Homo sapiens: one gene and its partner. The protein of the gene in region 2 purifies or fractionates together with the protein of the main gene of each other region. This does not show direct contact. Each region holds a gene or a part of one and is shown on either strand. Other genes may lie near its edges.

The links.
Region 1: the proteins of DLC1 (region 2) and LACC1 purify together in Homo sapiens (affinity purification with mass spectrometry; 2 studies listed by BioGRID and IntAct, with this or other methods). This does not show direct contact.

Annotation. Positions count from the first base shown.
Region 1 is NC_000013.11:43,875,006-43,882,915, reverse strand, and holds the start of LACC1 (purine nucleoside phosphorylase LACC1), read right to left. Parts: upstream 3,013-7,910; 5' UTR 2,797-3,012; exon of another isoform or gene 2,664-2,796; intron 1,965-2,663; 5' UTR 1,931-1,964; coding exon 1,369-1,930; intron 732-1,368; coding exon 553-731; intron 1-552. UniProt on the Homo sapiens protein: Purine nucleoside enzyme that catalyzes the phosphorolysis of adenosine, guanosine and inosine nucleosides, yielding D-ribose 1-phosphate and the respective free bases, adenine, guanine and hypoxanthine.
Region 2 is NC_000008.11:13,511,852-13,519,558, reverse strand, and holds the start of DLC1 (rho GTPase-activating protein 7), read left to right. Parts: upstream 1-4,707; 5' UTR 4,708-4,957; intron 4,958-7,707. UniProt on the Homo sapiens protein: Functions as a GTPase-activating protein for the small GTPases RHOA, RHOB, RHOC and CDC42, terminating their downstream signaling.

The sequences.
Region 1 (7,910 bases), on a different chromosome or scaffold from region 2:
GGCCTTGCATCCTGATCTGCCAGAATAGACTCCAGCTACCTAAAGCCCTGAACCGAAATAATTTGGTAGTTATCTTATTTGTCTTTCTTACTGTTTTGTAAATATATGTCTAGCTCACATTTATTTCAATGTTTAATACTAGGAATGTGTTGGTCTTTATTTAGAAGTTTGGTGATGTTTTTGTGACAAGAAATATGCCTTAGAAACTTTATTCTTATTTATATCAATTAGCCTATGGTAAAATTGGTTTTATTATGTCGTTTCACTTAAAGTCACAATTTCTAAGAACCTATCAACATTAAAGGATGACTTACTATATGTGTGTGTGCATATATATATATATATATATATCTGCACGTGTGTGTGTGTGTGTATAAAATAGAACTTATCTTTAGGCTATGGTGTATAAATCTAAGAAAGACAACCACAGCATTATTCTAAAACTTTAGATAAAAAAGCAGATACAAAAGTTAAATAGCTTAAAGTCCATGTAGTTACTAGCAAAGTAAAAAATATACTTTAGATCTTTCAAAATATAAAGCAAAATTTTACCTTTATTCGGTAAAATTTCTCCACATTAAATCCTGCAGCATTCGCCAACCTACGCAGATTTTCTTGAACCACTACCTTGGGATCTCTCCGTTTGGAACTACTGAAGAGATTGAATGAGCTAAGAGTTGGTATATAAGATATCCCACCTGTTCTTGTAGTAAATCCATGTATGAAAATATCTGTTGAAGATAAGCAGTGAAGATTTAAAAGATGCTATTCAAAATACCAGTCTCTCAATTAGACCTTCCCTGATCACTGCTACCTGCCCTTGTTATTTGGCTTCTAATTTCTATGGCATTTTGTACCTCCATATGTTCTTATGGCATTCTGCTTTGTGTTTGTTTTACACTCCCTATGAGATTGTTGCTCTTCAAAAGGTATATTGTGTCTCATCTGGCTTTGTTATATCTAATAGCATATAGCTCACAGAAAATACTGTTTAACCAAGAAGTAAGATTGATTGTTTTAAATTTTACTCTTCTATGAAGGTGCCAATGATTTGAAATTTCAGAATTTCTAAATAGAAGATTTTCAGTGTCATAAATCTCATTGCAAAGGAGGGCTAGATTATTTGTCTCATCATCAAATTTTTGTAAAGCAAATTTATTTATTTGGGGTGGCTTTGAAGGCTTTATCCCTTGACACCCCTGATACTACAGGGCCAAACATGACACCTCTGTGTTGCCACTGATGCTAATGAGTAATCAGCCCACAACAGTCAACAAAAGAAAGGAGGAAAAAAAGAGGTGAACTACCTCTGAAGAAAGACTAGTTTTCCATGTACAAAGTAAAAACAACAGTTAGTGGTTAATATACCTGGGATCAAAGAAGAAGTGATAATAGTTAATTTTCCTCTCAGTGCTGGCAGACTTCTCAAAAATGTTTCTATTTCATTCTGAATTCCTCTTAGTTCTTGAGCTGTGATTACGTTTATTTCAATGGACTGTTTAAAAAGCCCTCCCCTAAAAGTCACTTGCAAATCTTCAAATTCAAAATTGTAAACATCAGTGAAGAGTTGATCAATAAAAGCTTTCATTAATGTCTTCCTGTGCCTGGGTACAATTACCTTAATGCTGCTCAGATTTTTTTCATCAATTTTCTGTTTAATGGTATACAAAGTGGCAGCCATGCTGGGACAGCTAACAATCTCAAATTCTTCCAAGAGAGCTGATAATCCATTGCTTGTTTCTATTTCACAATTATCTTGTTCTCCATCCCTTTCATAGCTGATGTTACTGCAACACATTATACAGAGAAACTTGGCCTTGGCAGCATGGTGGTATTGGACAGCATTCAAAGTCTTCAGTAATGTCTGATGGCAGTTTTTTTGAGAGTTCAATTTCAAACCAAAAAGATCAATCAAAACAGCTTCTGCCATCCTTGAAAGAATACTTTTATGCCAAATAAATCACCTGCAAATAAAAATTAGTGTAAGAATATAAGATTATATAAATCTTATAGTTACAACAGAAATTTGTGGTAGATTAAAAACGAAGTAATTACACTGATTTTAAAATGTAACTAAAATAGTAAATCTAGGCCCCTCCCAGAAAAGCCAGTCTACTCTGTCACAACAGAACCATGACAGTGAAAGCAAAGCCATCTTTTAATTCGTTTTGTGAAAATGCTGGTACATCTTTCCAGCAGCACGACAGTTCCTCTGTTTTGTTTACACAGAACTTTTGAGTAAGGAATTACTTGTGGAGTTTAGACAAAGTCCTGTTTTTAAATTGCAGAGTGTCAACCTGTGTGATATATCATTAGTCCTGACATGATTGTCATATTAGGTCTCATCCTTTCATATGCGGGGGCTTAAGTTTACGAAGCTAAATGGAGCTGCACGCGAAATTCGCGTTTTAAGATGATAAAAGCTGAGATGGCTAATAGAGTTCCCTTCAGGATTTGCGCAGTACTCCACACTTAGCAATGACCACAAAAGCTATAGTGATTTGGATGAGACAGGCTTCCTCTCAACTTTCTTAATTCATTCTCCCCGTGCAGCTTTGCTCACCTCCAGCCCAGCCCTCCCACCCCAACCTGCGGGGCTCCGGTGACCCCCTTTGGTGACGCCCTTTGCCCCAAGAAGGTTTTCTCCTGCCGCTTCCCCTAACCTTTGCTCCCCATCTCTCGGGGCTCCCTCTGAGGTTCATTTAGCCAGTTTTGAGTGGGTGACCGTCCCCCCTTCCCTGTTCATTGTGAATTTCCGCCCAACGTGTGTCGCCGCCAGGTCCCTGTTCCTCCTACCCGCCTCGGCTCACGGGGCGCAGGCTGTGGCTCTGCACCTGCCCGGGCACCTCCACCGGCGGCTCACAGCCCATTCGGGACTTCCTGTCGGACAACGCACACCAGAGGCGATTCGGTCCTCGCCTTCCCGCTCTTCACCTTCGGTTGCACACCGGTCTACGGCGACCTCTGTGACAATTTGCCGCCCCGTCCCTCGTCCTGAGCCTCAACGAAATTGGGCAGCCGCGAGCGGGTCAGCTGGAGTCGTAAGCTCGGCCCAGCGCGACGACACCCGCCCCGCCTCACCTCGCCCACCTCGCCCACCTCGCCCCGCCTCGCCTCGCCCCGCCTCGCCCCGCCTCACCTCGCCCCCCTCGCCCACCTCGCCCCGCCTCACCTCACCTACCTCGCCGCGGCCGCACAGATTCCCCGCCTGATACCGTCCCAGGATCCCAGGGGAAACCTGACGGCCAGGTTCCCTCGTGCCAGCTGCCGGGAGGCGGGAGGGAGGTAGGCCAGGGCCGCCTGGCGTGCTTGGTGCGAACGCGGCGGGCCCAGCGCGAGAGCTGGGGAATCCCGGGATGAGCCAAGCGCCGCGAGCCCGCTGCTGCCTCAGCAGTTCCGGGTCTGGGCGGTCCGCGGAGTCGGCATCCCGCAGCCCCGGCGGCGTTAGAGGAACAGGAACCAGAGCCGCGCGAGGGCTCTCGCCCGGGAGCCAGGCGGGTTAGCGGGCAGGAGTGGGCAGGCCGAGTCCGGAAAGGGTCGCGAGGAGGCAGCTAGGGGCCCCTTGAGGAGGGATAGGGCGGCGGAACGACGGGCCCTGGGAGCGGGCGCAGGGCGGCAGGAGCTGCAGGTCTCCAGAGGGCACGGGGCGGGGAACTAGGGGCCCGGTTAGAAAGCCGGGCGGCGGGAACGGCGGGCACCGTGAGGGGGCGGCGGGAATGGTGGGTCGCGTGAGGCCGGGCTGCTGGAGCGACCTCGGGACTAAACCGCAGTCTCCCTTCTGCTAATGGAAGCCGTTTCCCAAGCGAGCTGAAGTCCGCGTTTCCGGTCTCTGAGGGACGCCTCGCTGACCCAGCAGTGTGGTCAGGACGCTGGGTTTCCTCACCGCAGCCCAGGGCCAGTCCCTTGTCATGCTAGCTCTTGGCAGCTTTTCCCATGCAGGGCTCAAGTCAGGGGCCCCCTCGAGATGTTTTAGTGTTTTTTTGTTGTTCATTTGTTTCCAGAAACAAGCTGTTGTCTCTCCTCCAATGTCTTTGTGCTGATTCTTGCTGACCAACACTCTTCCGAGCGCCTTCACTTGTGTTGACAACACGGATGTCCTCTATGGCCTTTTAAAATATGTGCCACTAGCAGGACTTAAGTAAAAGGCGCTCATCCCTAAAATCATGATAAAGGTGCAGTTTAGCATCCCTGATCTGTCCTCCAAGAATATAACGTTCATTTATTTGAAAATAGCAGTTAGGACATGGAAGGCCAGTGTATGGTAAAGGGAAAAAATATCCGACCTTCCAAGAGTAAGAGAAATGGTGCTTCCTGGGGAACTGGTTATGATGGAAGGAGAGGTCCCTTTTATCTTCATTGTTGCTCATTTGGTAGGCGCTAAAGAACCTTTGTCTCATAATCTCAGATAGCTGGGAATTTGGAAGAGCCCTCTGGGGTAGGCATGTTCTTGTGCTTGACTAGAGACTGGGAGCACTAACCCAGAATGGAAACCCACCCTTCAATAACCCTAGCACCAGTTATGTCAAAATTCATGTTTTCTTTGGTCATTTGTTAAAGAGCCCCGAGCGGTAGATGGTACACCCAATCAGAAGGTGCACTCTGCCCTGAGTTTGTTTATGTTAAATATCATTAGATTGGTGCAAAGGTAATTGCGGTTTTTGCCATTGACAAAGACCACAATTACTTTTGCACCAGCTTAATACCTCAAGCAAAACAGAGGTCTTTTAGTTACAAAGGTTTTAAACATTTATCTCTGTTTTTACAATGGTGGGATTCGTATTCTTTCATGCAAAAGTAGTGGCAGTAAAAAAAAAATGAAAAAGAAAATATTTCAAAAGAATGAAGTTGTCAGGGAAGAGAGTTTGTTATATTGTATTTGCATACCATTTCCTTTCACCATCTGGTCCTAGTGTCATGTCCTAACACTTCCTCATCCCATTTTCACTCTATCCTACTCCAGTGGTTCTCAGTCTTGGCTGCAAATCAGAACTGCAAGTGCAACTGAAAAAAAAAATAATTAATGTAGAGACTCTATCCCAAATATACATTGAATCAGAATCTCTAGGAGTTAGGCCTGAGCATGTTTTGCTTTGCTTTTTTGTTTTGTTTTAACCTCTATGTATGAGTTAGATGCATAATTAAGTTTGAAAAAATAAAAACACCCTATTCCCAAGCCACTCAAATAAAAGCTGTTCTTTGGAGGCCACATGATTTCATTCTTTACATTTGCAGTTCCTCTACTTAGCAAAATACCCTCCTTTTTATATGCCTAACTGCTACTTTTTGTTCAAGGCTCTTCAAGCTCAAACATAATCTTCCCTGAATCCCCATCCCTCATCAAGCAAAATTAATAGCTTCTTTACATTTTGTTCATATGAAGAAGCCCTCTCATAGATGTAGTCTGGGCCCCTAGCCAAGAAATAAGTGGAAAAAATGGTTAAATATTGAATTGTACACTTTATAAGGATGTACTTTGTGGTATGTAAATTATATCTAAAAAAGGCTTTTTTTATAAGAAAAAAGGTCAGTTAAACCACAGAATCATGAAAAAATATAACAAATACCTTAAACTGTATTCTAACCTAAAACAACTGTGTGTTCATTTGCCCATCTATTGAGAAGATCCAAGACCTTTTCTTTGCATGTAGTCTACTGATTGGAATTCTGCATACTATCTCTTGCATAAACCGTACCCATAAACCATCAGCTAAGATTTCCCAAGATTTTGTTCTTTTAAGGGGAAAATAACTTAAAGGCACCTGTGAAGCAATCTGAGGGCAGATTTATACTTTGTAATTTTTTTCTTTTTTGAGATGAAGTCTCGCTCTGTCGCCAGGCTGTAGTACAGTGGTGCGATCTCGGCTCACTGCAGCCTCCACAGGGTTCAAGTGATTCTCCTGCCTTAGCCTCCCAAGTAGCTAGGATTACAGGCGTGCACCACCACGCCCGGCTAATTTTTGTATTTTTAGTAGAGACGGGGTTTCACCATGTTGGCCAGGATGGTCTCGAACTCCTGACCTCTCTTGATCTGCCTGCCTCAGCCTCCCAAAGTGCTGGGATTACAGGCATGAGCCACCGCTATATTTTATAATCTTTTACAGTTAATCTCACATACTTTTGTTGGGTCTTTCCAAAATATTAAACATAGATTTTTAAAGAAACAACAATTTCCACACTATTTCATTGGTTTATACAATATTAAGTTACGAAAGCACAATATCAAGCACAACTGGCAAAAACAGGTTTGCAAACAAACACAAGTAAGTCATAAGATTGAACTAGTCAATTGATAGGAGCAGAAATAGGCAGATTTACTAGTTAACAGTTTCCTAGCATGATATGGGAATTAGTCACTTATGACTTACAAAGGTAATAGAGTGAGTTAAGTGGTTAGAGGTTATGTGTAGATAGGCTTAGACATAAGCTGCTGCGCCTCTCCATTTTAATTGACTGTGTGTCTTTCTGCCTAGAGTGTTTTGAGGGCAGAGATAGTGCCTGGCTATTAAGGGAACTATTGAAGAACTCACCAGACATTTTTATAATGCTATGTAAATCTTCTCATGAGAACAAGTATAATTTTAAAGAACAAAACAGTTGTTTTTAAGCCATTTACACTAAGGTTTATGGATCTTTCCAGAAAAAGCCATGTAGCAGATGCAAATTTCCTTGCTAAAAGCTTCTGTTAGTTTCCTAGGGCTAGCATAACAAATTGGCACTAACTGGGTGACTAAAAACAACAAAAACTTGTTCTCTCACAGTTACGGAGGCCAGATGATGAAACTGAGGTGTTGACAGCACCTTGCACATTTTGGTGGTTCACTTACCTCTTCTGTTGTCTGGTGACTTCAGGTGTTCTTTGCCTAGGGGCTAAGTGACTTCAAGCTCCATGCCTCCATCGTCAAATGGTCTTATTCCATGTGGGTCTGAGTCTCAAGTAGCCCTCTACCTTTCTCTTATAAGGATTCTTGTGTAGAAATAAATGAAGATCAATCAAATGAGAACAAGCAAAAGCTATTTATTCAGGCCTTGTAAGGGAGGGAGCCACAATCTCCTGCATTTTAGCAAAGTTGAAGGCAGGCAGAGGAGTGGGCATGCCCTGATTAGAGGCTCTCAGCATGAGGAAGCTGCAGGCAGGCTAACTAGAAGTGGAGCATTCTATGGCTTCTTTTTGTTAGTCTCAACTTGGAAATGGGGACAAAAGTTAGGGAAGATGCCAGTTATTAATCCAGTACTGGTCATTTGGGACAATTGTTATAGTTTGTCTCCTAGGATTGTTATTAGAGATAATGATTTAACTTTCTACAAGTCTAATTTATAGACTTCCTGGACTGGTTACTGTAGATAATGGGTTAGTCTCCTGGGTTGCTTGCTGCAGGTTGTGGGTCAGAGTTCTGTTTTTACATATGGTCTGGCCATTGTCCATTTGCATATTCAGTCACCTACCCTAAATCCAGGATGATCTCATCTCAAGATCTTTAACCCAGTTAAATCTGCAAAACTCCTTTTTCAAAATAAGGTCACATTTACATGTTCTGGGAGTTAGGACGTGGATATATCTTTGGATGTGCGGGAGGGCACTATTTAACCCACTATAAAGTTCCTCTTGGTTTGGAAATCATGTTTACTTGTTTAGAGGGGGAGGAAATAAAAGACCTTGCCCCTTGCCTCTCTGAATGAGACAAGCAGGTAGGTTATAACTGGATTTCACCAAAGGTCTATATAACTTCTGTCCCAGAGGTAGAAATCTTTTCGAAACAGTTGCCTGGACATCCTTTAAAGCTTGGATTTGAGCTGCAGACCAACCCCTTAATGTCTACACTCCAAAACAAGAGATGTTTTGGTAGTCCAGTACTGTCTATACATTCAGCAAAGCCCCTCCTTTGGTAGAAACCTAGAAGCAGTGTGGATAA
Region 2 (7,707 bases):
CAAAATTGTGACAAAATTGATCAAAAAACTAATCATGCGCATGATGCTTATTGAATATAAACTACAAATTATATGGTTTTTCTTGGTCTGGATGTGTCTACAAAAGTGAACTTATTTAAAGAAAACACATGAGCCAGGAGCGGCAGCTCACACCTGTAATCCCAGCACTTTGGGAGGCCAAGGCGGGTGGATCACAGGGCCAGGAGCTCGAGACCATCCTGGCTAACACGGTGAAACCCCGTCTCTACTAAAAATACAAAAAAAATAGCTGGGCATGGTGGCGGGTGCCAGTAGTCCCAGCTACTTGGGAGGCTGAGGCAGGAGAATGGCGTGAACCTAGGAGGCGGAGCTTGCAGTGAGCCGAGATTGCGCCACTGCACTCCATCCTGGGCGACAGAGTGAGACTACATCTGGGGAGGGGGGAGGGATAGCATTAGGAGATATACCTAATGTAAATAACGAGTTGATGGGGGCAGCACACCAACATGGCACATGTATACATATGTAACAAACCTGCATGTTGTGCACATGTACCCTAGAACTTATAGTATAATAAAAAAAGTAAATAATAAAAAAATTCTTGATAATATATTTTTAAAAAAAGAAAACACATGTAAAGCTTACTGAAAAAATAAATTAGAAAATCTGATAAATTCTACTTTTATTGTTTCCAATACAGTAACTTCAATAAATTACAAGCAAATTTTTAGAGATTTTTAGACGAATAATTTTCATGGACAAAGTGTTCTTAACATTTATTACACTAACTGTATGCATGTAGATATTTCAAAATACTTTCAAGGTATTTATTCTCTTTATATATTAATTTCAAGTTCATTGCTATTATAAACATATTCATTAACAAAAATGGAAAACATAAAAGCTGACTTCCACGCATAATATCACAAATGTCTAATGTGACTGAATTAATGATGTTGCTACTTATTTCATAAAAGAGTAAAACACTATTTTCAAAGGATAGATCTTGCTTTACATAAAATGTTCTTGAACTGCATGAGAGACACTGAATAATTCTGTACAGAAGTCCAGATTCAACTTTCCTGAAAATGATTGGGAAATGACTAGATAAATGATCATAGCTAATGTTTATTGTTTAGGTAAAAGTACCTAAGTAGAAAAGAGATCTTTAGGCCAGGCACAGTGGCTCACGCCTCTAAACCCAGCACTTTGGGAGGCCGAGGCAGGCAGATCACTTGAGGTCAGGAGTTTAAGACCACCCTGGCCAACACGATGAAACCCTGTCTCTACTAAAAATACAGAAATTAGCCAAGTGTGGTGGAGTGCATCTGTAATCCCAGCTAGTCAGGAGATGGAGGCAGGAGATTTGCTTGAACCTAGGAGGCGGAGGTTGCCTTGAGCCGAGATCACCACCACTGCACTCCAGCCTGGGCAACAGAGCCAGACTCTGTCTCAAAAACAAAAACAAAAACAAAAAAAAGAAAGGTGATCTTTAAAATACCATTTAATCCACCTCCTGCTATTCTTCTTTCCACAGAGTACATAATTGTTCCACCACTATAACGGTTTCACATGTATACATTTAACTTGGAGTTCAATAGAAGAGAGAGAAAGATTCTAAAAATACCTGAAAGAGAGATGTAAACATTAAAAAAGGCAATAATTTAAGTGGTAAAAATAATTCTAGCTAATGGCTTTATATGGACTAGCTTTTTGCATTGTGACAATTCTTAGTTATGGAAGCTAAGACATCCTCACCCCGGTTAGGTAACTCACACAGGTCACAAAAGCTGTTAGTTTTGGAGCAGACTCCTATCCTGATACTTTGTTTTCAAGTTCTTAACTGTCCCTGTCCCCTTATTTGATTAGCTGATCCAGTACAGAGTAACAGTCAAACATTTAAGGAAGTTGGTATTTAGATTTGCAAGTAGAAAGAAGGGGACAAATATTTTGAACTCCTTCAGTGTTCCTGACACAATACTAAGTACTTAGGAAGTTTTCTCACTATTTATCTTTACACTCATATTTGGTAAAGCCTTTATAAGACTATAAGATCTGAGATTTGTTTGGAATCAAGCAACTCAACAATGAAAAATAAATATAAGTAATTAAAGATTTGGGAAGTAATCCTATTAATAGAAGAAAACATAATGTATTTTTTGTGTAGAAAAGGGTATGTTTATGAGAAACTTACTAACAAGAGTTTCTAGATATCTAAAAGGCATTTGTGAACAGAGTTTTCTTGTTTTCCCAAGCCAATAGAAATAGAAACAAAACTAAAGTATATGGCGCGGGGTACAGTATTCATGAATAAAATGTAGCTAAGAATTAGCATGATGCTGATATAATATTGAGTAACCACTGTATATCAGTACTAAAGGCAGTGACAGAGATAGAGATATCAAGTTATATTAGGAAAGACATAATATCAGTTCTCATTCCTTTCTTCTCCAGTGTTTTTCTTAGGGAAATAAACATAAATACACAAATATTTCTGCATATAAATTTCATCCTGCTTTCCAATCTATAAGTTATGTGAAATTGTCTCTATTTTTAAAGAGAAACTATTAGAGTTTAAGAAGTCTTCCCAATTTAATAAAGAAATTAAGTGGAAGTCAAGGAAGGCAGTTTATGGAGAAAAAATTAAAGCACAAAGCTTGGAGCTAGAATATCTGAGTTCCAGTGTGGACCTGGGCACTTTGTATCATTTGACTGTGAGAAAATTGCTTCTCAATACTTTATTTGTAAAATAAAACATATGAATACACGCAAAATTGTTGGAAAGATTAAATAGGCATACTGTCAGTAGAAACACTTTGAATATAAATATAAATACTTTTTAAAGAATTTATGGAAGAACAGACTTCTTTCTTGGCCTATGGTTGAAGATTAAATTAAAGAAACCTAAATGCTCATGTTTTTAGTCAATAAGACTTTGATCTAAACTTTTAAAGCTGCTTCTGACCAAACGTTTTTATTTGACTACTTCTCATCTTCAAACTCATGCACAGTATAAGTCATTCTTGCCATCTAACATGGGTCTAATATGGTTCATGATTTGCATTAACTTTGAGAGATTTTAGCTACCTAATAAGGAAAAAAATAGTAGTTAGAACCTTGTGCATCTTTGAGTTATCACCTACCCAATATTATCAAAAAGTACTACAAGATAGCCCTTGTGATATACAGGGATGGAGAATAACAGTGAACAATGAAAACTACTTACAATTTCAGAGAAGAACAGGATAGATCTTAGGGCCAACAAGTTTAAGATGTCTTTTACCTCTTTATATGTTACTCATTTTATCACATCCAACTGGAATTATTCTTGCACTTCCTATTATTGAAAGCTTCTAGAAATTTGCAAGAAGCAGATAGACCTAATAATTAATCTGATCATCAGTCCCCCCCCAAAAAAATGCTTGAGTCATAAATAGCAGCGAAATCCATTGATTGTAAATAAAGTAGAAGGGAGACATGACTGAGCCATTTCCACCAAGCAAGATAATTAAAGTCAGAGATGCTGTTTCCTGCTTCCCTGGTATAAACAATGAAGCTGCTCTACTGGCCTCTCCACAGCCTGGATGTCCCAAAACCACCTCCCTCTTCTTTCCTTCCACATTCTCTAAAGAGGATTCTGGGTCATAAAGGAAGGAAAATTGGTGTAACTTTTTTCCTGAAACGACTTCAGCTTCCTCTGTGTTTGTATTTGTGATATCTTATTATAAGACGAGCTAACATCTATTATTAATTGATGCACTAATTAAAGCCATACTTGCAGTTTCCATTAGCTTATTCCCTAAATTCTCCAGAGTTGCCTGTCTGGTTTTAATCAAAACCAAATGGTAGTCCAAATTCCCAACCTGGAGCAGCTAGGAGGAAGTCATTCAAGGGAGGCACAAGAAAGCAGAAAAGATAAACAGATGATAGTTCACAAAATTTGTGACGGACGAAGGATGCAGATACCATGAGCGGCTTTAGAGATGTGATTCAGGAACGCTGCCATGCTAGATGGAAGCAGTTGTAAGTGTTTAATGTCAGCAAGACTCTAATACGATCAAGATGGAGCCTGTCTTCTGCTCCAGCACTGGATTTTTGTAACTGGAGGATTCTGACTAGAGGTAATGCGCTGCTGCATTTGCCATAACACGAACTATTTTAATTCTGTGAAGGATTCTTGTGATCAGAGAGATCTGGAAGAAATCGTTCTATTAACTGGATGCTTGGGATTTTACTTACAGATGGTCTCAGGGACAGAATGAAAAGCTGCAGCATTTCCAATTTTAAGTCATGTTCAAAAAAGGTTTTGCCATTTAGAAGAATTATGGTATTAAGGCTAAATTCATCTTGCTCTCTTAAAAGATCTTTTGAAATGAGAGCAAGCACAGGCATTTTGATTAAGCTGTGCATATACATTTAATATAGTGGAAAGGTTGTGGATAGAGAGAAAACTACGTTTTCTTTCTTTCTTTCTTTCTTTTTTCATAAGCAGTGTGGGATAGAAAAAGCTCTAGGACTTTATGACTCTACAGCTAATCACCTCAAGAGCTTTGACAAAACTCACTTGAGTTCTGTGTAAAATCAGAACTCCTAAAACGCCCAGGCGGCTGGGCTCTCCCCTCCTCCCCTCTCTTCGTACAGCCTTTCTAGCATGCACACTCCTCAGAGGCAGGAAATACTTTCCAGGCAATCTGGGCCTGGTTGTGGAGGCCCCTTTTGCAAAACCTCAGTCTGAATTTAGTAGACAGAAGTCACTAGGAATGCCTTGACAGGATCCTGCCTTAGCTAAGGCTCCCTCCAGCTGCAGAGGGTGTTTTTGTTAGACTCACACACTGCGTGAAACTGCTCAGAATAGAGCCATGATCTCAACCACGAAATGGGAACTTAGATTTTGGAGAAACTAACGGGGACGGACTTCTTTCCTAGCCTGAGTGTTGAGCAGTGTCATGCCTTGGCGTTTCAGCTCCTCGTTGTCTAGGTAAGACGCTATGGACTATCTTTATGCTTTGAGGCGGTCTTTGAAGAGGCAGAAAGATTGAGATAAATGTTAGCATCTTGCACGGAGTTGGTGACTTCCTAGGTTTTAGAGCAAAGCCATAAAATCAGAAGTGGAAAATGTTTGATAAGTAGAAAATTCTGAGTCAATTCGTTTTAGCAAACTGTCAGTTCTAAAACAGGCTCCATATAGATTTAACTCTTTTCCTCCATAAAGTAAGATTTTATTTTTATCCCTTTTTACGTTTAACTTATTTATTAATTGAGCTGTCGGATCAGTTTTCCTATTTCTTGGCATAACGTGAAACAAATACATTTTCTCACACATCAGTGTGAGGTGTAAATGAATTCCTCCCCTACCTTCCTTTGCCAACAGGGAGAGTAGAAAGCACCCGAGTGACTTGTGCTTAATAATCAGTCTCCAAAGAGTATTTTGTGTCTCATTTAAAACTACGAAGATTGAATTTCTTATTATTTTACCCAAGCCAGTTTCAATCATATGTCAAGCTTCTCCTGTACAGCTTAAAAGGTTCATTTAAAAAAAAAAAGTAAACACGTGAAATTTCAGGAATTATTTCTGTCCTAAATAGTATTTAATCTGAGTTTTGGAAATTTAAATGTCGGAATCGAATTTAGTTTATATTAATTTTCCTGGATTCACTGCTTGCTCCGGTCACATTTTGTGTAATATTTTGAATAACTGAAGTCAATCTCAATGACACTGACACTCATTATAACTCTTTTAAGGCAGCCAGAAATCACTCCAGTCATATGGAAACTGTTTGTGTCCTTACTTATGTAATCGTAAAATTACATTTCCACCTGACTGTAGTCTCTTCAAGGTAATCTTAAATGTTTAAATGTACAATATATTAGAAAAGAAGTTTAGTAATGACCGAAAAAGTGTGGACTTATAATGCATAAGATACTGTTATATTTCTGAATATTTATAATAAAATTCATCATTTTATAGAAATAAAATGGTACATAAAGGGAAGAAATATTCATGTACATTTTCAAATCTATTAGATGAATACAAAATATACTAAGTGAAAGATGGAGAGCTATTTTGACAGTTGGATCATAAGAAATGAAGTAACTGTTTTCATTATAAGTTTTTATATAGTACAAGGTGACCATCTGCTATATTAGCTATTCTCAAATTTTATGCTAGAATAACTTATATTGATAAATTTTAACTATTCACTGACAATTTGTGTTAAAACTTCTTAAATATGAGAAAAAGAATCTACTTTTTATATATGTGGAAGATAAAATACTGACTTATCTAAATTATGATTTAATTAAAATCTCCAAATGGAATTTCAGAGAAGGAAAGAACATAAGAGATGGTCTCCTCTAACAATGGCTTGAGGTTGTCTACAAGAAGCTGAGAAATGGGATTTAAAAGTGACCTGTCCAAGGTCACACCTCTAGCTAATAGAAGAGAGGACAGCAGAACCACAGTGCCCTGATTCATAATTCAGATACCTTTTTATCCCATCATCCTGCCCTCCCATAATAATTATGCATAATGAAGTATGAACATGTCCAGTAGAAGGGTGCTTTGCAGACAGAAATTTGCAGTTCCTCTAATTTAAAAAAAAAAAAAAAAAAAGGTAAAACTGTCACCAATGTTAATTATGTGGGGAAAAAAATCCTAACTTTAAAAAAAAATCAAATCAGTATGCCTTCAATAAACACTTTACAGTAGTAACTTGCTTTATGACTATTTTATTATATTTGATGTTTATGTCAAGAAAATCAATCCATATGCTAATAATTATATTAATTTTAATCTGATGTTTCTTTAAAAATAGGGCTAGAAAACAGCTTTTCTAATTTATATCCTTGTACTCAAATGATCATAATGAAACTGTCCCAACCAATGACTTTCAGAGGCAATTTTACAGCACCACCCCCAGGCATCCTTTCTTCTATCTAGCCTAAATCATTGTTGCTGTAGCTTATTTCAAGTTCTATGTGGGTCTTTTCACTAAATATATAAAAAGCCTAAGTTGACATATAAAAAATATGTTTACATTTCTCCAGCATGTTTGCAATCCCTTAATTGATTTGTATGTCTGCTCTAAGCCTTCTACAAAGTCATTTAATTGTAGAATGCAGAATTTTTACAGTATATAAATAAATGTCTGAACAACGTGGTATAAAATGGGAGCGTGGGCTATTTCATCTGCATCATACTTCATATATGACAATATTTGTTGCTGTGTGTGCTGAAGCAGTATACCTTCTCAGACAAGACCCTTTCTCATAAATGTAACACATTCCATTTCTAATAGCTGCCATTTCCTTAGAGAGAATGTGTCACGATACTTTTTTTTTCCATTTTCATGACCAGATTGAGTTTCCTGATGTTATTACTACTTAAAAGAGACACTATTCAACACTTCCTTTCAATGTCACCACACTCTACATTATTGGAATGAGAAATAAGTGCAGTAAAGTGGTGGCCCTTATAGCTGACTGCCTGATTCCTAGAAGGCCTAGTAAAAGATAGCACATCACTTCATTTTCTTCATAAGGACATTATAATTTAAAAAAAAGAATTTTTTCTCTCTCTGTCTATACCTACCCATACCATATAACTCACTACAAATACTTATGGGATGGTTTAATCTTATTCATAGAGTTTTAGATCTTACAGGCTTAAAATAGGTCAAAAATTGATCATTTGAAATTTGTCTTTTGTTTGTTTTTTGTTTCCTCTTG